2 separate regions of the Homo sapiens genome follow, and region 1 is linked to region 2. The links come from fine-mapping of genetic effects on gene expression. A gene starts in region 2. The other region holds a variant in brackets. All regions are shown on one strand. Distances are between the middles of the regions.

Region 1 (11,071 bases), 42 kb after region 2:
TTCATCATGCATCTTCTTGGGAGGGAGATTTTTAGAGGTAACTAAGTTTAGCTAATTTTTTTTTCTAAAAATCTGTAGTATTTTGTTTATAAATGACTCCCCTAAAAAAAAAAGTTCATACACAACATACACAATTTGATTTTTTCTAGTAATTGTTCCAATTTCTTAAATTTTAAAGGTTTTCTTCCTGGGAAGATTTTGAAGAAGAACATGGCAAAGGGAGAGAATATGGTTATGCAAGCCTTCACAAGGAGCTTGAGCCATTTCTGTTACGCCGAGTTAAGAAAGATGTGGAAAAATCTCTTCCTGCCAAGGTTGAGCAGATTTTAAGAATGGAAATGAGTGCTTTACAGAAACAATATTACAAGTAAGCTGTACACAGAACACAGTTCTGAACTTCTAATTCTGAAAACCTTCCATGTCTGTGTCCTGCTTTTGGTGCCCCCACCTTCTCTACAATAGTGTCTTAGAGCAGTTGCAATTCTCGAGTTTCAGAATAAGTTTATTCTGTGTCGTTAGGAGGCAAAAGGAGATTTAATGACATATCCAAAATTATGAGTGACAACACTGAGTAATTCATCTTCTGACACATAATTAATTGCTTTCCTATATATCATACTGTTATCTTATAAAGAGTTTAAGTGTTAGGATTTCCACAATAATAAAGGTATTATATGATTATGACAATTAACAGAGGCCAAAAAAAGAAACTTAGAAAAAAATTTTAGGCTCTGCTGCTTTTTGAAGAGTATTAACAAATCATAGCTGGTATAAATTTTGTATGTCAAGATCTATACAGTAGGACTTTTCAAAGAATCAGAAAGGAAAATCTGTTCTAATATCTGTTTAAACATTTAATTGCATAAAAGGAAATATATTGCTACATGCATTTGGAGTTTCAGAAACATTTATATTCTATGGTAAATCTATAGGTGCCATACATTTGAAAGAATATACTTAATTGCATAATTATTTTTATTATGGAAGATGTCAGACATATACAAAAATAGGATAATTTAATGAACTCTTATACCCATGACTCAGCTTCACTTTCTTTCTTTTTTTTGTTTGTTTGTTTTTTGAGACGGAGTCTCCCTTTGTACTCCAGGCTGGAGTACAGTGGCACAATCTTGGCTCACTGCAACCTCCACCTTCTGGTTTCAAATGATTCTGGTGCCTCAGCCTCCCAAGTAGCTGGGTTTACAGGTGTGCCCCACAATGCCCTGCTGATTTTTTTATTTTTAGTAGAGACAGGGTTTTGCCATGCTGGCCAGGCTGATCCTGAACTCCTGGCCCCAAGCGATCCACACGCCTCAGCCTTCCAAAGTGCTGGGATTACAGGTATGAGCCACTGTGCCCAGCCCCAGCTTCCCTTTCAACTCATGCCAGTCTTTTTATGTATCTCTGGTCATCCCCATTTCCCTCAGTACCTGTCCTTTTGAAGCAGATTGGAAATTTTTCCATAAATATTTTTCTGTGTATTTCTAATAATTGATTTTTAAAAATACTAGTATCACCTGGGCCCAGTGGCTCATGCCTGTAATCCCAGTACTTTGGGAGGCTGAGGCAGACAGATCACTTGAGCCTCAAGAGTTTGAGACCAGCCTAGGCAACATGGCAAAACCCTGTCTCTACTCAAGATACAAAAAACTTAGCCAGGAGTGGTGGTGGGTGCATGTGGTCCCAGCTGCTTGGTAGGCTGAGGTGGGAGGATCGCTTGAGCCCATGAGGCAGAGGTTGCAGTGAACCGAGGTCATGCCACTGCACTCCAGCCTGGGTGACAGAGTGAGACCCCATCTTAAGTAAATAAATAACCCACTTTAAAATTTTCACAATTTAGGAAATTATTGCTCTCTCAGCAGAATCAATTTCTTGATACCAATATTCAGTATCAGTGTTCAAGTTTTCTCTGTTGTCTCAAAAAATTTTTTTACGTTTACTCGAATTGGGATTGAGATAGGTTCATATATGGCAATTGATTTGTCTCTGAGTTTATTATCTATAGGTACTTCTTTTTTGTTAAAATGTATACGATGGGGAAAACAGTTATTCTGTAGAATTTTTCCACAATCTAGATTTTGCATAGTACTTCCCTCTAAAATAGTTTAACAGTATCCTCTGTATTTCCTACAGATTGGTAGGTAGATGTAGGTGCTTGATAATATTCAAATTAATAATTATGAGAAGAGTATATTTTGTAGTACACAATGGCGATTATCTAATTTTGTTATGGGGTTCTTTAAAAAAAGTAATGCATTTTGTAGAATATTTAGAAAGAAAAGTCAAAGTAGGAAGAAGACACATTCACCTGTAATTCTCTTAGTGCTAGTCATATATCATGGATGTTGAACTTAAACTCTTCAAGGTACTTTTTGGCAACTAAGGTAATAAGATACTGCCATAAATTTCTGGAAAAATTCTTAGAATTTTTACCTCTAGAGAAATTAATAATAAATTTTTTCTGGATAAGGAAAAATATTCTTTATTCTTGATTACCTCTTAGGGCATTGAGCATTGTCCATGGGTTTCGTTTTGCTTTTCATTCCAGTTTTGGGGAACTGCCTGTATAACTAGTGGTAAAGAATGGTAATAAAAGAGTATGTACACTAGATATTTGAGACTTTCAAGTCCCTTCAAAAACTGACCTTGTAAAAAGGAAGAAAATAAAAGGTGGAAAAGGTCATGGTGAGAGGAAATTTTTCTTTTCTTTTTTAAATTCAGCTTTTATTTTAGATACTGGAGGTATATGTGCAGGTTTGTTACATGGGTAATATTGCATCCAGGTAGTGAGCATGGTACGCAGTGGGTAGTTTTCAACCCATGTTCCCCTCCTTCCCCCCTCTAGTAGTCGACAGTGTTGTTACATGTTTATGTCCATGTGTGCTCAGTGTTTAACTTGCACTTGTAAGTGAGAACATGCGGTGTTTGGTTTTCTGTTTCTGTGTTAATTCACTTAGATTATGGTCTACAGCTCCATCCATGGATATTATTTTATTTGAAGGGCATTATTTCATCCTTTTTTTTCTGTGGCTGTGTAGTATTCATGGGATATATATACAAAAATATGGAGTGTTCATGGATTTGCATGTCATCCTTGTATGGGGACCATTCTAATCTCTGTATTGGTCCAGTTTTAGTATAAATGCTGCCGAAGTGAGCACAGGAATTGTTACATGTAGTTTGGAGTAGTAAAATATCACCAAGATGTTTTCTATAAGTTACATATGTATTGTGTAATTGCAATCTAGAGAAGGCAGTCGTGGCTAAAACCAGGTATCCTCAGGTTTCTTTTAGGTCCATGCAAAATAATTCAGTTTCATTAGCTGTCTAATGCAGTAAAAGTTGTAAGAAGATTCAGATAAATAATGCAGCTGACCATCTTTTTAGCAAATTTGAGGGGAAAGGATTAATACACTGTAATAATTATGTTACATTAGCCTGTTCTGTGTATAGCTAATGGTTCAGAAAACAAGTTGTGTTCTCATGAGTATTATGAAAGAGGTTTGGTCCGTTGTATATACAGCTGTGAATTTTATAACGGTACAGTTTTACTTTGGTACTATCGTTGGCTTTTTTTGTTTGTTTTAATGCTTTTAGAATTTATCCTGGTAATTGTTCTGCTAAACATCGTTTTCATAATTTTTTTTTTTAAGATGGATTTTAACTAGGAATTACAAAGCCCTCAGCAAAGGTTCCAAGGGCAGTACCTCAGGCTTTTTGAACATTATGATGGAGCTAAAGAAATGTTGTAACCATTGCTACCTCATTAAACCACCAGATAATAATGAATTCTATAATAAACAGGAGGCCTTACAAGTAAGAATTTTTAAATGTTGTTTCTTTGTGATAAAGTTCTAGAAATGTTGATTTCACTTACAATCGAAAATGGCTCAATGCTTTAACTTATTGGATAAAAGTTCTCTTTAGTTAATGGTGCCTTTCTATAATGGTCTCAGTTATTAATCTTTGTAGAAAAGACTTTAAAATTCTAATTTATGTAATTATTTTGATGAATTTTCTAAAAATAGGTCTCTCAAACCATGGCCTATAATAACTTATCCAGCAAGAAAATCCCACAGTATGTTCATAATTATGAAAAAATCGTTAATAGTAATTGTGCTGCATTTGTGATTTGGTAAATGGTAATCTAAAGGACATCTTGACCTCACATCTTAACCCTTCCTGGTACTTCTGGAAGATAAGTCAGAAGTGCGAAGGCACAGCTGCAATCCAGCCACTGTAGTGCATTGAAGGGCTAGGATCAGCATCTAGAATTAATACATTAGAATGCATTTGCTTACTCTTTTTAAACCTTTGGTTGCTTAGTTGCTGCTGCTTCTGATGTCATTGTTCTTCAGCTAAGATTTTTGGAGAAACACTGTGGTATAGTAACTAGCAAACAGAGTGAACAGTACTTTTTTCCTCCCCGATAGTATAACAAAACCTAGGTGTGATATGGCAAAGGGTATTTTAGCTTCAGTCATAGAGTGAAATGGTAAAGGTCTTAGAAAATTTTGAAAAGTGAAATAAGTTGTTTTCTAACATGAAAATTTAAAATCTCAATTTAAAATAATTCAGGCAACTAAAGTGTTACGTGGACAACTTACCATTTATGTCTTTTAACATATAACAACTTGAATTGTTTCTGTAGCACTTAATTCGTAGTAGCGGAAAATTGATTCTTCTTGACAAGCTATTAATTCGCCTAAGAGAACGAGGCAATCGAGTTCTTATTTTTTCACAAATGGTGCGGATGTTAGATATACTTGCAGAATATTTGAAATATCGTCAATTCCCCTTTCAAGTAAGCATTTAATTGTATTTGTTGTTTTAAATTTTATCTAATTCCTGTGCATATTTTACAGAATTAACTGAAATTATTTTATAAGTGTTTAGGTTTTTATATAAACTGTACTTTTTCTTTAAAAAGATGTATCTGCTTTAAAAAATATTTGTCATTCCCGGTTTTTCTTGACTTTACATATTGCAACAAAACAATTTTTCTTCCTTTCCTGTGATTTTTATTTTCTTTTAATTCTGTCTTTTTCTTCTATGCTTGCTTTAGATTTTAAAAACTGAACTAAGGCAGAATTTTCTTGATTGGATAGATCTAAAAGCAGGGGAGCCTTTAGTCTTCAATCTGAATGAGGAAAACAGCCAGTAGTCTCTGAATGTGAATGCTGCCAAGATTCTGATGATTGGTGTGCTCATAGTTATCTGACACAGGGTTTGTTGAGTAAAACTAGACAACTTTACAGAAGAAACTAAAGACCAAAATTCCCTTCCATCTATTCAAAATTTATATTGAAGTTCATTCAATATAACTAAAGCTAATATTGATGAGTATTTAAAGTCAGGTGCTGTTTTCAGTACTTCAGATCTAATTACTTAATTCTCAAAGCAATTTTATGAACAGTACTAGGAACATAGCAGACATTATGTAGATACAGCTAGTAAATGCTGTATATTTAGTGCAGATAGTAAAATAGCAGTAAAATTATAATAATGGGACTGAACACACAATCCCTGCTTTGTCAGAGCTTATCATCTCTTACAGGAGACAGACATCAAGCAGGTGATTACAAATAAATGTAACATTACAATTCTGGTAAGTGTTGTGAAGAAGGACAGGTATTTGGTGATAGGAATATCATTGAGAAATAATTGCAGTCATTTAGGGGAAAACGTAGAAGAGTACCATTAGTTGAGGTTTTTGAAAACACCTTTATTGATACGTAATTCCCATATCATACAGTTTACTCATTTAAAGTATACAATTCAGTGGTTTTTACTATGTTCACAGATGTGTATAATTGTTCGACAGGTGGTTTTAGAACATTTTCATCAGAAAGAACCTGTAGCCTTTAGCTATTCCTCTTGTCCTTCCATTTGCCTTCCTCTTCTGCCCTGTGTTGATTTGTTTTTAAACAAATTATTGTGTACATAGTCAAACAAAAAATTAGTTTGACTAATTTTGAGTGTTAATAAGCGCCACTTCTCTGTTGCTAATTCCTTCTCATTCCTAGGTCACTTCCTGGAGAGAATAATTTTTAATTTTATTTGGTTTAGGTCATGCCACAGTAATGAGATGCCACTATTCTTAAAATTTGTACTAATATGTATTTTAGTGGAAAAGAAAAATTATTTTAATTTTTTAAAACTTTAATAGACATGTTTTCCTACTTTGAGTAGGTGATAATTAAGAGCACTTCATTTAAACCACTTAGAATACATCATTTAAAATGTTTATATTTTTTCTTCGCAGAGTTAAAATTCATATAGTAACAAAGCAAAGGTAGGCATATGGCTTCCCAAAATACTAGTTTAATTCGTCGGTTAAATGCATGGATCATAGTAGACAAGTTATTTCTAGTCTATAACCAGTTAATAATTATAAAATCATTGCCATTTCTAAAGTGAAATAGCAGCTAATGTTTAATAAGCGTTCAGTATGTTGTAGGCACTGTGCTACATGTTTTCCTGTGTTCTCTCACTGAGTTCTCTATAGTCTATGAAGGAGGGACTACTATTATGTCTGTTTTGTTTAAAGCGGAACTGACATGGTGAAAAAGTTTGTGGAGAAAAGTCAAATCACTTGCTCAAGATACCAAGTGAATAAAATACTCATTTGCTGGCTGTTGACTAGAACCCATGATGCTTCACATCAATAATTTTCAAACTTTAGTGTGCATCAGAATTAACTGGATGGCCTTTGCTAAACACCTTCAGTAGGTCTGGGGTAGGACTCAATAATTTGCTTATCTATGTTCTCAGGTGACACTAATGCTGTTCTAGTAACCACGCTGGACTTAATCAGTGTTTTTAAAACTGAATTGTAACCTGTTAATGGATCTGTGAATCAGTTTAATGGGTTGCACCAACATTTTGAAAGTAAAATGATAAAACATGAGAGTATAACATAGTATATCATGTCATGATATGAAACTGTTTCAGGTGTTTGCAAACAGCTATGTACTCAATCACATACTTTTAGAATGGGGACTCAGGCAGAATAGTATGACAGCCTATGCTGTATTTACTCTTGAGGGTGCAGTCTTAGTGATTTGGAGCACAGACTAAAGACAGAATGCCTGAGCATTATTTTACTGTCTAGTAAGTACTTTCTATTATAGTTTTAGCAAAGGACATGCTTCACATTTCTACTTAATTTTATAATTGATTTTAATTGCTTTGTAATACTTTGATTCTGTTTATGCAGTATTTTAATGTGTTTTTTTCTAGAGATTAGATGGATCAATAAAAGGAGAACTGAGGAAACAAGCTCTAGATCATTTTAATGCTGAGGGATCAGAGGTATGTATTAGTGCTTTTAAAATTATAAATAATTTTGATTTAGTATCAGTATATTACATTATTATATTCAGACATTTTTAATCTTCATATCTAGTTTGATAAAAAAAGAGTGGTGTTAGCCACCTTTGATTAGCAAATGAGGTTTTAAAGTCACTATTCTAGTTTAAACCTAAGGATTTTATCTTTGAGACAGAGTCTCACTCTGTGGCCCAGGCTGGAGTGCAGTGGCACAATCTCAACTCACTGCAACCTCTGCCTCCCAGGTTCAAGCTATTCTCCTGCCTCAGCCTCACAAGTAGCTGGGATTACAGGCGCGTGCCACTGTGCCCAGCTAGTTTTTGTAGTTTTAGTAGAGATGGGGCTTCACCATGTTGGCTAGGCCGGTCTTGAACTCCTGACCTCAGGTGATCCACCTGCCTCAGCCTCCCAAAGTGCTAGGATTACAGGCATGAAGCCACCGCGCCCAGCCAAGAATTTTACTCTTTATTATCAATAATGTTTCAGCATGGAACAGTTATTTTAATTTGCTTCAAAATAAATTAGCCAGATTGGGCACAGTAGCTCACCCCTGTAATCCCAGCACTTTGGGAGGCCAATGCAGGAGAATCGCTTCAGACCAGGAGTTTGAGACCACCCTGGGAAACAGTGAG[A/T]CTGCTGTCTGTACAAAAAAAAATAAAAATAAAAAGTAAAAAAAATAAACTGGGCATAGTGGCACTCGGTTGTAGTCCCAGTTACTTGGGAGGCTGAGTTGAGTGGATCACTTAGCTCAGGAGTTTGAGGCTGCGGTGAGCCATGATCATGTCACTAGACTCTAGCCCAGGCAATAGAGTGAGACTCTGTCTCAAAAAAAAAAAAAGGGAAAGAAAAAACCCAAAAACAACAAAGTAGCCCACTTTCCTTTAAAAAAAATTTTTTTTATTTCCGTGGATTTTTGGGAAACAGGTGATATTTGGTTAAATGAGTAAGCTCTGTAGTGGTGGTTTGTGAGATTTTGGTGCACCCTTCACCTGAGCAGTATACACTGAACCAAATTTGTAGTCTTTTATCGCTCACCCCCTCCTACCCTTTCCCTCTGAGTCCCCAGAGTCCTTTGTATCATTCTTATTACTTTGCATCCTCATAGCTTAGTTCCCTCTTACAAGTGAGAACATACAATGTTTGGTTTTCCATTCCTGAGTTACTTCACTCAGAATAGTAGTCTCCAGGCTGGGCGTGGTGGCTCACGCTTGTAATCCCAGCACTTTGGGAGGCTGAGACGGGCGGATCATGAGGTCAGGAGATCGAGACCATTCTGGCTAACACAGTGAAACCCCATCTCTACTAAAAATACAAAAAAATTAGCTGGGCGTAGTGGCGGGCGCCTGTAGTCCCAGCTACTCGGGAGGCTGAAGCAGGAGAATGGTGTGAACCCGGGAGGCGGAGCTTGCAGTGAACCGAGATCGCGCCACTGCACTCCAGCCTGGGTGACAGAGCGAGACTCCGTCTCAAAAAAAAAAAAACAAAAAACAAAGAGTTAGAGACCAGCCTGGCCAACATGGTGAAACCGCATCTCTACTAAAAATACAAAAATTAGCTGGGTGTGGTAGTGCCTGCCTGTAATCCCAGCTACTCGGGAGGCTGAGGCAGGAGAATTGCTTGAACCTAGGAGGTGGAGGTTGCAGTGAGCCAAGATAAAAAGAGTGAGACTCTGTCAAAAAAAAAAAAAAAAAAAAAAAATATATATATATATATATATATATATATATATATATTTAGTCTCCAATCCCATCTAGGTTGCTGCAAATGCCATTATTTCATTCTTCTTTATGGCTGAGTAGTTTTCCACTGTGTATGTATACCACAGTTTATCTTCTTGTTGATTGATGGGCGTTTGGGCTGGTTCCACATTGTTGCAGTTGCAAATTGTGCTGCTGTAATCGTGTGTACAAGTATCTTTTTCATGTAATGACTTTTTTGCTCTGGGCAGATACTCAGTAGTGGGATTCCTGGGATCAAGTGGTAGTTCTACTTTTAGTTCCTTTAAGGAATTTCCACGCTGTTTTCCATAGAGTTCTTTTTTTGGTATATGCCTTTTATTTTTTAAGGAAATAAAATTTACAGTTAGAGTTGAAGTGTCATTCCTTTCCTATCCCGTTTTCTTTCTTTTTCACCAGAAGTAAACACTGTATTGAATTTGGTGTTAATAACATATATATTTGATTTTGGAGTCTTTTTGTTGATTGGTCTTGCTAGATGTTTATTAGTTTTAAAAACTGCCTTTCTGTTTAATTAGTACCATACTGCTTACGTTCAGAAAATCAATTGAAAAATTTTTCATTTTGATTATTCAATTTCTTACAGGATTTTTGCTTTTTGCTGTCCACAAGAGCTGGAGGTCTAGGGATTAATTTAGCCTCTGCTGACACTGTTGTTATATTTGATTCCGATTGGAATCCACAGAATGATCTTCAGGCACAGGCTAGAGCCCATCGAATTGGGCAAAAGAAACAGGTATTTTTAATTTTAATTTATATTATATTGCTGTTTTAGAATTCTTTTTTTTTTTTTGGAAGTGATTTCAGTTTATCCTCTAGAGGATAAGATCACTGTAACAGTCATACTACTGTTTAACCGATAGGATACTGAGGAGCTTGGTTTACCAAAATCACCTGGAGAGTCTGACAGAATTGAGATAACTATGCATATATAGGATCATGTATTCTGTTTTGATCCCGTATTCTAGTCGTAACTATAAAATGCAGTGTTTTTCATTTTATAATAAAAACTTTAAAACGTCTTTACTTGCTTATTTTAACTTGAAAGGGAGTTTGAGTAGCATATGCTACCTTTCTGTTAGTCTATATTTTGTCCATGTGCTTACAAGATTCTCCACATGTAAACGTGACCCCATTTTATAATTGTAACAACATACCCTTAAATGGTGGTACTGAACCTTTACCTAGAGAAATAGGGAAAATTTACTGCAGAATCTTTGACCTAGAGAAATAGGGAAAATTTACTACACCAATTCTTTTCAATTTTGGAGAGTTTGTTTTATGGTGGGTTTCTTATTAACTTGGGGAGTAGTTCATAGAATTTTGCATTATATAGAGTGATGAAACATTAGAATCAAGGCAACGAGTATAAGAAGGCTATCAGAAGTTTACATGCCCCCCCCCCATTTTCCCCAGCTAAATCATAACATAAAAATTACTGTCATTCCTTTAAAAAAAAATAAGCAAATGCAATCTCCTTATCAAAATATTAAGAAGGAAGGAAGGATATAGTTTCAAAATAGTCCCTTAAGTTGAGGAACTCTAGCTTTAAACATGTTTTTTAAATTTTCATTTTGCTTTTAACCAGTGAAAACTTCATATAGAATGAGCTTCAATTTGTGTGCCAGTGTTTAGGCACTTGAGGTTAGCAAAACAAATCCTTTATACTGCAATTTGTTTCCTCATGTGTATTTTTACAGGTGAATATTTATCGTCTAGTTACAAAGGGATCAGTTGAAGAAGATATTCTTGAAAGGGCGAAAAAGAAGATGGTTTTAGATCATCTTGTAATTCAAAGAATGGACACAACTGGGAAGACAGTACTACATACAGGTTCTGCCCCATCAAGGTGGTTACTTGATTATTAAAAAAATGTCATTTTAGAGTCAGTAAACTCATATTTTTGATATGTTACATCACTGTAGATCATTGAGGAAATGTATTCAGAGTTGTACTTTTTATATTTTGGAAGACTTTGGACTAATTTCTAGTTAGAAGACATA
Region 2 (11,071 bases):
CCTACCCACATGTCATCTAAACAAAACGTTATGAGTCAATACTGTGTTAATAGGATGCTGTCAATGATTTTTCAACAATGGCACATTAGAATCACCTAGGGGAGCTTTTAAAAAAATGCATGTGCCAAGGCCCCACCTCAGAACCATGGAATATAATCTTGAGCATTTTTAGTACACAACTCCTCAGTTAATTCTAAATTTTGGCACAGCTGAGAATTATGTATCTTCTAAACATATTACTCTTCCCAGGAATATATGCTTTAAAACAGATTTCTATCAATGACTTTTCAAGCATTAGTAGAGGATGAAGTATAGATTTGTGGAACAGGAGGTTCTCAGTCTCAAATCACACCAATTAAGTGACCACCCATAGCCCGTAACTGTAAATGATGGTATTGTTCAGTTCCTGTTTGAAAAAAAACAATGAAAACAAATTCTCCCAAATCAGACTTTGAAGATATTAATGTATTTGTTTTTTAGATGATTAATATGTGCTAATCCTTCCACCTAATTCTTATACAGCAACTGGACATTATTCACCACTCTTTCCATGAAGCCTTACTCATCTTCAGTAGCGCAACACCCTGCTGGTAACTGTGTAACTCCTCCTTATCCAGTTCATCTTCCTCTACCTAGTCAAAAATAAACTGGAATTCTTCACTGCACACACTTAGGCTGTCTTCCAAGTTTACTTCATGAATACTCAAGACTTTAATTTTTCCCTACACACTTCACACTTAACAGCTTTAATTTTCAGTCTAGACTTCACTTAGCTCCATGGTTCTATCCAGAAACCTCCTGGGCAATTCAAAGGCATCAGAAATTCTGTAAGTCTTTTTTTTTTTTTTTTTTTTTCCCAAGACAGAGTCTAGCTCTGTCGCTCAGGCTGGAAGGCAGTGTCACGATCTCGGCTCACTGCAACCTCCGCCTCCCAGGTTCAATCCATTCTCCTGCCTCAGCCTCCCAAATAGCTGGGACTACAGGTGCATGCCACCATGCCCGGCTAATTTTTTAATTTTTAATTTTTAGTAGAGATAGGGTTTCAACGTGTTGGCCAGGATGGTCTCGATCTCCTGACCTTGTGATCCACCCGCTTTGGCCTCCCAAAGTGCTGGGATGAGCCATCACACCCGGCCCAATTCTGTCTTAAACCAAACGTAATGATCTCCCTATCTATACATCTCCAAATACATTACTATATAAGTGAATGTCATTCAGCTGCAAATGACTAACATCCCTCCTCCTCCTAACCCTGCCTGAATCCAATCCCATCAAGTTTTGTTACCCTTCCCAATTCTACTTCTCTCCACCTCCATTACACTATCCTAGTCTATCATGTCATTTCTAACCTCTCTTATCTGCCAAAGACTCCTGACTTAATTAGGAATACTGTATCTACTTCAACCCACATCTAATCCTTCTTTGGGATTTATACCTAAAGTAAAAACTTTCAATTTGCCAGTCCCATCAAGCTACCACCCAGTTTCAAATCCTTCAATAGCTTCCTCATTGTCTTGAAAAACATACTTCACTTAGCCTTTGGGCCTAGTGTCTATGTAGCCTCATCTTGTCCAGCTGCTGTTTGCTCCAGCAGAACCATGCTTCTTAGAGTCCCTTATAGATAGGATGGCCCTGCAATTTACTATCCAAACCTGAACACTTCTGAAAGTGAATACGGCCTGTTCTTGGCAAACTGGCAAGTGCACTGACGTGATCTCTCTGACCCCAGAATCTTTGCCCATGTTGTTTCTTTTACCCAGAAAGCAGCTCTTGTACTTCCCTTTCTTGCCTACCTAATTCATATTAATTCTTCAGCTCTAGACCACAACGATCACGTCACTTCCTTGAGACTTTTCTGACTAGGGTTCTTTATTATGGATTCTCACAGCACCGTATGTCTCTTCATACTATTTTTCTAAGTTGTCATTTTATAGTGTGACTGTGTCCTGAACTAGGCTTTAACTTTGAAAGTGTTAGTTTTTGCTGTATTATAATCCCTCCCTACCCTCAGCAGAATGTCTGGTATGTAATACATTCTTACATTTGTATTGAATGAATATCAATACAATGCACTGGGGCACAGTACTCTTTGCTCAAGGACCTCACAATGTAGTATGGAAACAAATGCTATATTGTGATACAATGACATGCCGCACTTACAGAATACTCAATTCCATGTCCTAAAAGGGAGGTCAGAGAGTTTTCTGACAAGTCTTATAGGTTGTCAGCACAATTGTGTCAAGGTACTCAACAGTTCTTGAGCATTTACTTAAACGAACTTATGAAAGACTGACCCATAAGATAAATGGGTTATATCCACTTACAATGAGAGATACCTTTCCAGTGACCTGAAGAAGTGTCTAGAGTACCAAGTGTCCATTAGGAATGATGAGAGGCAATACTGAGATTAGTCTGTGAAAAAATTAAGTAACTAAAATACTAGGAATATATGATATGTACATACATCTTCATATATGTTTAGTTTACAAATATATGTGGTATATAACAGGGGACTGATTTAGTTAGATTTCAAGTTTGAAGGAAACCTAAAGGATAAGCTGAAGGGAAAGATAGAGAAAATAGAGGCCTAAACTAAGCCCGGTAGTGGGAGTTAAAAAGAAAGGATGAATACAAAATTTCTGCATTAAAATGAGTGGTACCGTTTGTCCCTCAGTATCTGCAGAGAATTAGTTCCAGGACCCCCATTTACCAAAACCTGGGGATGCTCAAGTCCCTTATAGTTGAGCCTCTGTACCTGCAAATCCCTGCAGGTACAGAGGACCAACAGTATTTGGACAGCAGTGAATAAAGAATCTGGGCAAGGGCTGGGCATGGTGGCTCACACCTGTAATCCCAGCACTTTGGGAGGCTGAAGCAGGCAGATCACCTGAGGTCAGGAGTTTGACACCAGCCTTGCCAACATGGTGAAACCCAGTCTCTACTAAAAGTACACAAAATTAGCTGGGTGTGGTGGCGCGTGCCTGTAGTCCCAGCTACTTGGAAGGCTGAGGCATGAGAATCACTTGAACCCAGAAAGCGGAGATTGCAGTGAAATGAGATAGCACCACTGCACTCCAGCCTGGGTGACAAAGTGAGACTCTGTCTCAAAAAAAAAAAAAAAAAAAAAGAATCTGGGCAAGGAAATGAGTGATACAGCATCAATGCAATAATTTTTAAATATTTTTGAGGTTGGCTACTTAACCTTCTTTCTTACTCTGCGTGCACACTTAATTTTTCAGTAGAGGATGGAATCTTTGTATCTTCTTCAATGCCTATTAGATTTTATACATACTTGCCTCTTAGTATCATCTCTAACAATTTTCTGTTTGAAATTTAGCTTTTAGTGATTCAAGAATTTATCATTCAAAATCCCCAAATACAGTGACCATAAAGAAGGTGGATGAGCCGCTGGTAGATATCAGAATAATCTGGGAAACTTCCCAAATACTACCTAGAACCTAGAAATTCTGCATATCAGCAGAGGGGAAGAATAGGAGTGTCAGGCACGTGTAGTTACAAAAGAACTTTCCAGGTGACTGAGTCCTATCCCTTGCCCAACACTGGGAACTAAACTCCTCTAATTTCTTATTAGGAAAACAGAAAATGTACAGCAAATCTTCACTAGAAGATGACTTAGGATTTCATGGTTTCTATTCAGAGGACTTTGTAAATTTAAGAATCATATTGGAAAGACTTCCTCTGGTTTTGCAAGGACATGGGAAATACTGTCACAGGTTGAGATTCTAGGGTATTTTAATAATGTCCCGATTGTTTTTGTGGTTTCTCATATGCAAATCCTCCAGGCAACAAGGACATAATTATGGAATTAAAATCTTAACCCTGGCATCCAAAAAGCTAACAAAGGAGCAAGTTATCCTGTTTATGTTATATATTTCACAATTCTGGATATGTGGTTCCCAGCCTATCCCCACCTAAGGATACCCATTTAGTACTTTACCTAGTAAAGCATATCACAATTAAGGACCCACAAAATGCTGTCTTAGATTCCGGAAAAGTAATATTCTTTCCAAAGAATATGAAATTTTAAAAATGAGAAATTAAATAGTAACAAAAACCTCCTGGTTAATGTTAATTATGTGGAATTTTTCGTTAGTCATGTGTTGAGATTATCAACTGTTTGGCTATTGTTTTAGTACCACTAAGTAGAGATAAAGCTAGTTTATTCAAATAAAGTGACACTGCAAATTTAACTATGTTGATAACAAATCATCAAAAAGGTATCTTTGGATTACCTACACGCTTTTTAAAAAATGAACTGGCAAGATTGTTGCAATTTTCCACCTACTGTGTACTTCTGCAAAGCAATAAAGTATGATTTTACTCGAAATCTAAATCTCCAATGTTCAATATTTTATTACAAATTGGGCAAGATCTTTTTTCGAATAGCATGTTTGATGGCACAATACGACAGAATAGCATATTCAATGGCACAATTAGTAGTAAAAAAACAAAAAACCTGCCTGACGTGCTTCCGGAAAACGTAAAATAGACTGTATATACAGTAATTCTTTTCATAAGACAATGACAAAATGTCAGAGTTGTAATTGAGGACTTTATTAACTGAACTATACTTCTGATTACAACATTCTGTGTATGTTAATAGTTTCTCTGGAGAAATTACGGGCACAGGAAGTTCCTCTCATTAAGGATATTAACATAAAGCTTAATATGAAAAATTAGCACTCAGTTCAGAAATGACGACTTCAGAAATGACTTCAGAAATGACGATTTGTATGATCTTTTCATTCCTCACAACCCAGTATTAAAACTATCTAATATTGCAAAGGATGGTAGTGTTCCACTTCGTTTTGCTATTCAATTATTGCTGATAGATACATGTTTTCAAAAAGGCCATTGGCATCTGTTTGCTTTCTCCTACTTCTCCAAGTGAATACACCCTTCAATATGTAGTAAATACATATGTGGAGTTATGTTTTGAGATTTTTTTGAAGGATTTGAACCAAACTGTTTAAACAGCTGGTAGCCTAAAACTGGAATATTTCCCACAAGGGAAAAATAATTATTTGGGGAATGTATGTTACCACAAACTCATCTGACTTGGAAAGTGCGCCTTTACACCAAATCAAATAACTGAACAATGGGATTAGAAACTTTTAATTATTATTAACCTCGGCCACCGGGCGCCGTGGCTCACGCCTGTAATTCCAGCACTTTGGAAGGCAGTGGCAGGTGGATCGCTCGAGCTCAGGAGTTCAACACCAACCTAGCAACATGACAAAACCCCGCCTCTACAAACATAAATAAAAAACAAAAATCATTAACCTTGAGTGAGTCAAGTTCATCTGCAGACTGAAAAAAATAAAGTGTAACAGAATTTTGATTTAAAAAACGCTTTCAAAAAAGCATTTCAAAATGCTCTAAGTATGTTTCAAAAATACACTTAAAAATATGTTTCCAACACACTGAAGGGATTTAACTAAGATCCACAATTACAGTTACGATACAAACTGTAAGCTAAAAGGCAGCAACTTAAGCTGAGACAGTTACTAACATCCCTCGAGCAGCGTTTTTTGTTGCGATTCGGCGCCGCACCCGTCACCCCGCCCTCCGGGGAGGAACCTAGAAAGGAAGGGTGGTACATTTCTAAACCAGGCCACCCACACATGAATCAAGCGGCATCACAGGCTGTCAACAACCGGGTCTCTATTTTCTCTCCTCCTCCGGCGCCCCGCCCGTGCGGGACATCAGCTCCCAGGATGCGTCAATCGCAGATCGCCCAAGCGTAAGAGGTGGCGAGAGGCCACCACGGTTGCCCAACAGTTGCGTTCCCAGGCTGCCTGGTGTGACGCAGCAGCCCCCGCCCGGACCCTGAGGCCTGGCGCTCCGACTGAGCCGAGGCCTGTGCTACCCGACACTCCTTGCGACCCGGCCCCTTAGGCTTATTCAGCGCGGCCCTTCCCGGCTTCCCGAGTCCCATCGCAGTCTCTCCCCACCCCCGTTCCTCCCCGGTTCCTTGTCAGTGTCCGCCGCGATGTCCTTGCGCAACCATCCCAAGTGACATTAGCGCCCATACCCGCACGGAGCGAGCCTGAAGCTCCCACTTCCCGGAATTCAACGCCGGGCCGCTAAGGGCGGGCACCCAAGCGAGGATCAGCGGACTAAGGCCGCGACCAGAGTCCAGCGGTCTCCGCGCAGTCAGAGTCCGACAGCCTCTGCGCATCCGCCGTGCGCACTCCCATTCGTGCGCGTGCGCGCACTCGCCCCCCCCGCCCCGCCCCAGCACCAATCGCTTTTTTCCTACGCCCACGACCCTTCAACGTAGTCCCTCCCGCCTCCCGCGCGCGAGCAGAAAGGCTTCGGCGTGCGCGCGCCCGCCCGCCTCGCGCTCTGTCGGGAAGGGGAGTGAGCAGAGGCGCTTACGTCGCGCGGGAGGCGGAGGCGACGGCGACCTCGGTGGCGGCGGCGGCTACGACGGAGACGGTTGCGCTCGCTTGCTTTCTCGGCGTCATGGCGGCTGCCGGGGGCAGATAAGCGGAGGGAGCGGGAGCGCGCGCGCGACGGCGGCGGCGGCGGCGGCGACGACTGGTTACTTATAGCTCTTGCTGCCCTCGCCCTTGGTGCTTCAATAATGAATTGTTAGCTCCACTCCGCAGGGGATCGCGCGTTGGTGCTGCGGACCGGGGCTTCCCCTTCCCCTCCGCGTCTGTCCCCTTCCCCCTCCCCCGCACGGACTCTTGCTTACCCCGAGACGCCGGAGCCCTAGGACTGGGCGGCGGAGATCCCGGGCCTGGGCGCGGGGGAGGCCGTCCACCCGAGTCGGCTCCCTCCGCCCCGCCAAGCCCGCCGGTAAGAAAGGGGGCGGCGGGCGGGTCAGGATGTGGCGGAGAGGACAGGAACCGGCCGGGCGGAGGGCGGGCGCGGCGCGGTGCCCAGGCGGCGGCCCAGCGGCCGGGTGAAGGCCGGGTGGCTCTGTGAGTGCCGGTGGCGGTGTACGGGCCTGGCGCGCAGGGGGCGTGTGAGCGGCGAGTACAGGCCGGGGCCGCAGAACGCATCCTTGCGCCGGCCCGGCGGCCCTGCCCCGGCCTCTTCGGCTTGGTGCCGACCGGGCCGCGAGAGGAGACCCGCGAATGGCTAGCACTTAGCCGGTGCGTGGGTCCTGCCGCGACCCGGGCTCCCAGCACGTGGGGAGCGGCGGGAGGGGGAGGGGGCGGCGGCTCGGGCGAGCCTGGGAGGGCGCGGGGCGGGTCTGCGGGAAGTTTGAGGCGGGAAGAGGGACTCCTGGACCGGGATGGAGGCCCTGGGAGAGGGGGGCAGGTCCGCGAGGGAGGCTGATTGGAGCGCGCTGGATGGATGAGTGAGGATGGTTTCCAAACCTCTTTCGAGTGCCGCTTTAAAAACTTAGCAGGAGCAAAGCAACTGCTAAAAGACAGAGGATTGAAGAGGTTTAATAACTTAGGGTAGTCATTGTGGAGACGCTTGAGAGGACACAGCGCTGTGTGCGCTTGGAGCTTCAGAACTCAGGGTTGTGAAAAGGGTCTCAGAGGACTTATTCGGATAAGGGAGATGGAGGGGAAAGGAAGTTAAAATGTACAGAGAAAGCCATTTTGAGGGACGAAAGGAAGGTGAAAAGGAAAGAACGAAAAGGGGAGTGAACTTTTTAAAGGAAGAAACGGGAAAGGCAGTTTGTTAACATACTTAGATTTTTTAAGACTTAATTGTTCAGTAAGGCACTTTGACTAGGGTTGAGATTAATATTTAACATTAGGAATAAATGTTGAGTAGAACGGTTACTTTTTAGATAACCTGTTCTTGCAGAGTCTACTGGACAGTAGTCTAGAGAATTAACATCCTGATCCAGATGCAGACTTTGCTATCATTGAGTTGGTAACAATCTGTTTCCCTCCCTCTCTTGTGGAATGGAAATAATCGTAGGAGTGAATTCTCTTTGCTGAGGTCGGAGGACAGCTCTGCTCTCAGTTGGCTGTCTCGGTACTTTCTGGCTGGGGAAGGATCTGACGTCTCCTTCCCCCGCTTCTTCCTCTCCCTCCCCTGCCAGAGATCTCCTTTGTTTATTCGTGGATGGCTTGTAGGTGATTCTTCAGTGTTGTACTGAAATCTTTAAAGGTGGAAATGGTGTGTCTTGGTTCATTATTCTTGCCCCAAATTTTTTACGTAAAAAATCAGATATAGTGTATATTCTATTACCTTTTCAATTTTTTTCACAAAATAAAAACCAAGTGCAAACTGGTTAAGTATTATTTAAATGTTATCATCCCACTATCCGTTTACCTGTTAAATAACACATTTATTTTGAGCTATGCATTTTTGTTGAGAGTATATGGTATCTTTTATTTGCCTGTTCCTCCCATGGGAGCGTTTTCAGAACTTTCTCACTCAAGTGTATGAAGTTCTTGGTGATAGGAGTGAGGGCTTGATTAAAGGTAACCTCCTCCCACCCCCCCCCCCACTTCATTTATTCGACCAAGTTATCTAATAAGACTCCGTTATCTACTCTTGGGATGTATGCATATGTTACATCGTATCACCTTGCTTTAGGAGTCTATAAAAACATTGTTAGTTGCAGTTAGTCTCTAAAAATCCTTTCACTCCACAAATATTTTAATTTTTTCTGTCCGAAGTATATTAGCAGTAGCATACTAAATTCTAGTTAGCAGTCAGGAGTGTAGTTATTACAAGTCTAGATATTTTAAGTATTTAATAAAAGGCCCCCACTTCTTCCTTAACAGCTGTAGTCTAATTGGCCTACGTAGATTTATACGTTTTAGACAGGGCTTAATTTACCTTTTTTCTGCAGGAAATTTTGTTAATTTATTAATATATTTTCTTTAGGTGAATCAAAGGAGAGTCCCAGAAAACCTGTGACTGTTGAAGAAAATTCATCTGTGAATTTTTATATTCAAGGAGTCAGTATTTATATTCATCTTTTAAACTGGGAAGATTTATATTTTACTTTAAAACTTCTTGATAATAATTTACAATGAATGGACACAGTGATGAAGAAAGTGTTAGAAACAGTAGTGGAGAATCAAGGTAAGTAAGCACTTTGTTATCAATTGTTTACTATGAAGAGAGTTGAAAACTTGACTTTTTTCTTTATTGTTATTGTTGTTATTTAGTTTTCCTCATAGGTAGCAGAGTTTTCAGGTTTTCCTCTTAGCTATCCAAATACTAAAAAAATTCTGATATACGAACCTTTTTTCATAATACAGGTTTTAATTATATTTTTCATTCAGATACACAGTAGATCTTAAATATAGAAAGTTTTTGTTTACTTAAATCTATTTGGAAGTTTATATTTGAGCTAATAATTAAGCTGGAGCATGTATAATAGATTTAAATTGTTTTGACTGTTAGTGAAATTTCTAGATGAAGGCAATAAAAATTTTTTCACTCATCTTTTTCTGGCATTTTGTCTTCTATACCTGTACTGTCCAGTGTGGTAACCACTAGCCACATGTGGCTATTTGAACTCAATTACAAAATATTCAGAATTTACTTAGTCATACTAGATATATTTCAAGTGCTGAATAATCACATGTGGCTAGTGGCTACCATATTGGACAGCACATAGAAAACATTCTATCACTGGAGAAAGTTTTAGACAGTGCTGAGCCAGACATTTGTTGAAATATTACTGTGGCCCTTTTTTATTTTCAGATTGGAGTTTTAATTATCTGTGAAGGAGTTAAGAGTTCTTGCTTGGGTCAAGTGTTTGCAAAGAAGATTCTTTAAATTCTGTAGCTCTCAAATTTTGAGTTATCTGCACATTAGTTTACAATCCATGTAGTTATATGCATTATCATATATAGAAATTAGGAATGTGGGCACTGGAGTCAAACTGTTTGCTTACCCTATTTCTACCTCTTATTAGTTGTGTGAATTAGGGCAAATTACTTAATCTCTGAGGCTCTGATTTTTGCCCCATAAAGAGGGGATTAAACTATTGTTTATCTTATTTAAAGTTCACGGCTGGGCTTGTTGGATCCTGTTTGTAATCCCAGCACTTTGAGAGGCTGAGGAAGGAGGATCACTTGAACTCAAAAGTTGGAGACCAGTTTAGGCAGCATAGTGAGACTTTGTCTGTAATTTATAAAAAATAAAATTTAAAAAAAATTTGAGGATTGAGATGCTTCATGTAAAGGGCTTAAAATATTTTCTGAGATAATGAGCACTGAATATTTGCTTATTGTAACCAGCATGTTTTGTGTAACACAGGATACTATATAAAAAAAACATTAATTACAGTGATGGAGACATGGGGGTGGACAAGAAACAGGAAAGTTTTGGCAATTAGGAAGATTAAGAAAAAATGTTAGATAGAAAACTAAATAGTGGTATTTGTATTTGATCTGAAACTTGGACTTTTCTTTTTCTTTTTTTTTTTTTGAGACAGAGTCTTGCTCTGTCGCCCAGGCTGGAGTGCAGTGGTGTGATCCCGGCTCACTGCAACCTCCACCTCCCAGGCTCAAGTGTTTCTCCTACCTCAGCCTCCGGAGTAGCTGGGATTACAGGCGCTAGCCACCACTCCCAGCTAATTTTTGTATTTTTTTTGTAGAGATGGGGTTTCGCCACATTGGCCAGGCTGGTCTCGAACTCCTGGCCTCAAGTGATCCACCTGCCTCGAGCTCCCAAAGTGCTGAGATTATAGGCATGAGCCACCACGCCAGGCCTGACACTTGGAATTTTCTGACCTTGCTAGTTATACTTTAGTTTATCAGCTTTCATACATACTGTTTGGATAAGCAAGAACATCATAGAGAATAAAATAAGGAACAGTTATGGAAAGCAGCATTATTACTTGAACAAGTATTGGTCTAGGAGTTATACAACCTGAGTTGATGCTATCTCTGCATTAATTAAAACTCATATGATTGCCTCAACTCTAAGGATTGAACTGATATTGAAGTTTCATTTTAATTAATTACAAAGTGCATCGTAAAGTTTCAAACAGTAAAGTTTTACTAGAATCACCAGAGTTGAGGTTTAATTAAAAGACTTTTGAATCTGAGCTTTGATTCAAATCTCTATAGGTATGTTGACTACTGACTATAGTTAAGTAAATAGAAGA

Alleles and levels. Positions count from the first base shown, and alleles are read on the strand shown. Sizes are in standard deviations (SD) of each study's normalised expression.
For the expression in monocytes after Pam3CSK4 of the gene that starts at base 6,360 in region 2, allele T in region 1 goes with a lower level than allele A (large effect, 1.0 SD a copy in Quach 2016).

Evidence for each region. PIP is the estimated chance that this variant, and not a neighbour inherited with it, causes the effect.
Region 1: its variant is the best candidate, but not a certain one, in a credible set for the expression of CHD1 in monocytes after Pam3CSK4 (Quach 2016, PIP 0.68).

What each region holds. Positions count from the first base shown.
Region 1 is chr5:98,881,821-98,892,891 of GRCh38, reverse strand. CHD1 (chromodomain helicase DNA binding protein 1) reads left to right here. Exons shown (of 36, transcript NM_001270.4): 15 at 179-367; 16 at 3,654-3,816; 17 at 4,652-4,804; 18 at 7,243-7,314; 19 at 9,655-9,804; 20 at 10,769-10,917. It also overlaps the pseudogene RNU6-402P. Among named protein-coding and RNA genes, the nearest start is that of CHD1-DT, 41 kb to the left of the region's middle. The variant A/T (reference allele first, on the strand shown) is at 7,965.
Region 2 is chr5:98,924,296-98,935,366 of GRCh38, reverse strand. CHD1 (chromodomain helicase DNA binding protein 1) reads left to right here and starts at 6,360. Exons shown (of 36, transcript NM_001270.4): 1 at 6,360-6,828; 2 at 8,833-9,033. The coding sequence starts at 8,981. It overlaps CHD1-DT (CHD1 divergent transcript), which reads right to left and starts at 6,805. Exons shown (of 4, transcript NR_151718.1): 1 at 6,725-6,805. LOC100289230 (a long non-coding RNA gene) reads right to left here and starts at 6,233. Exons shown (of 1, transcript NR_036530.1): 1 at 4,358-6,233. RefSeq lists enhancers at 1,492-1,671, 5,627-5,956, 5,445-6,343 and silencers at 6,117-6,326, 6,587-7,216.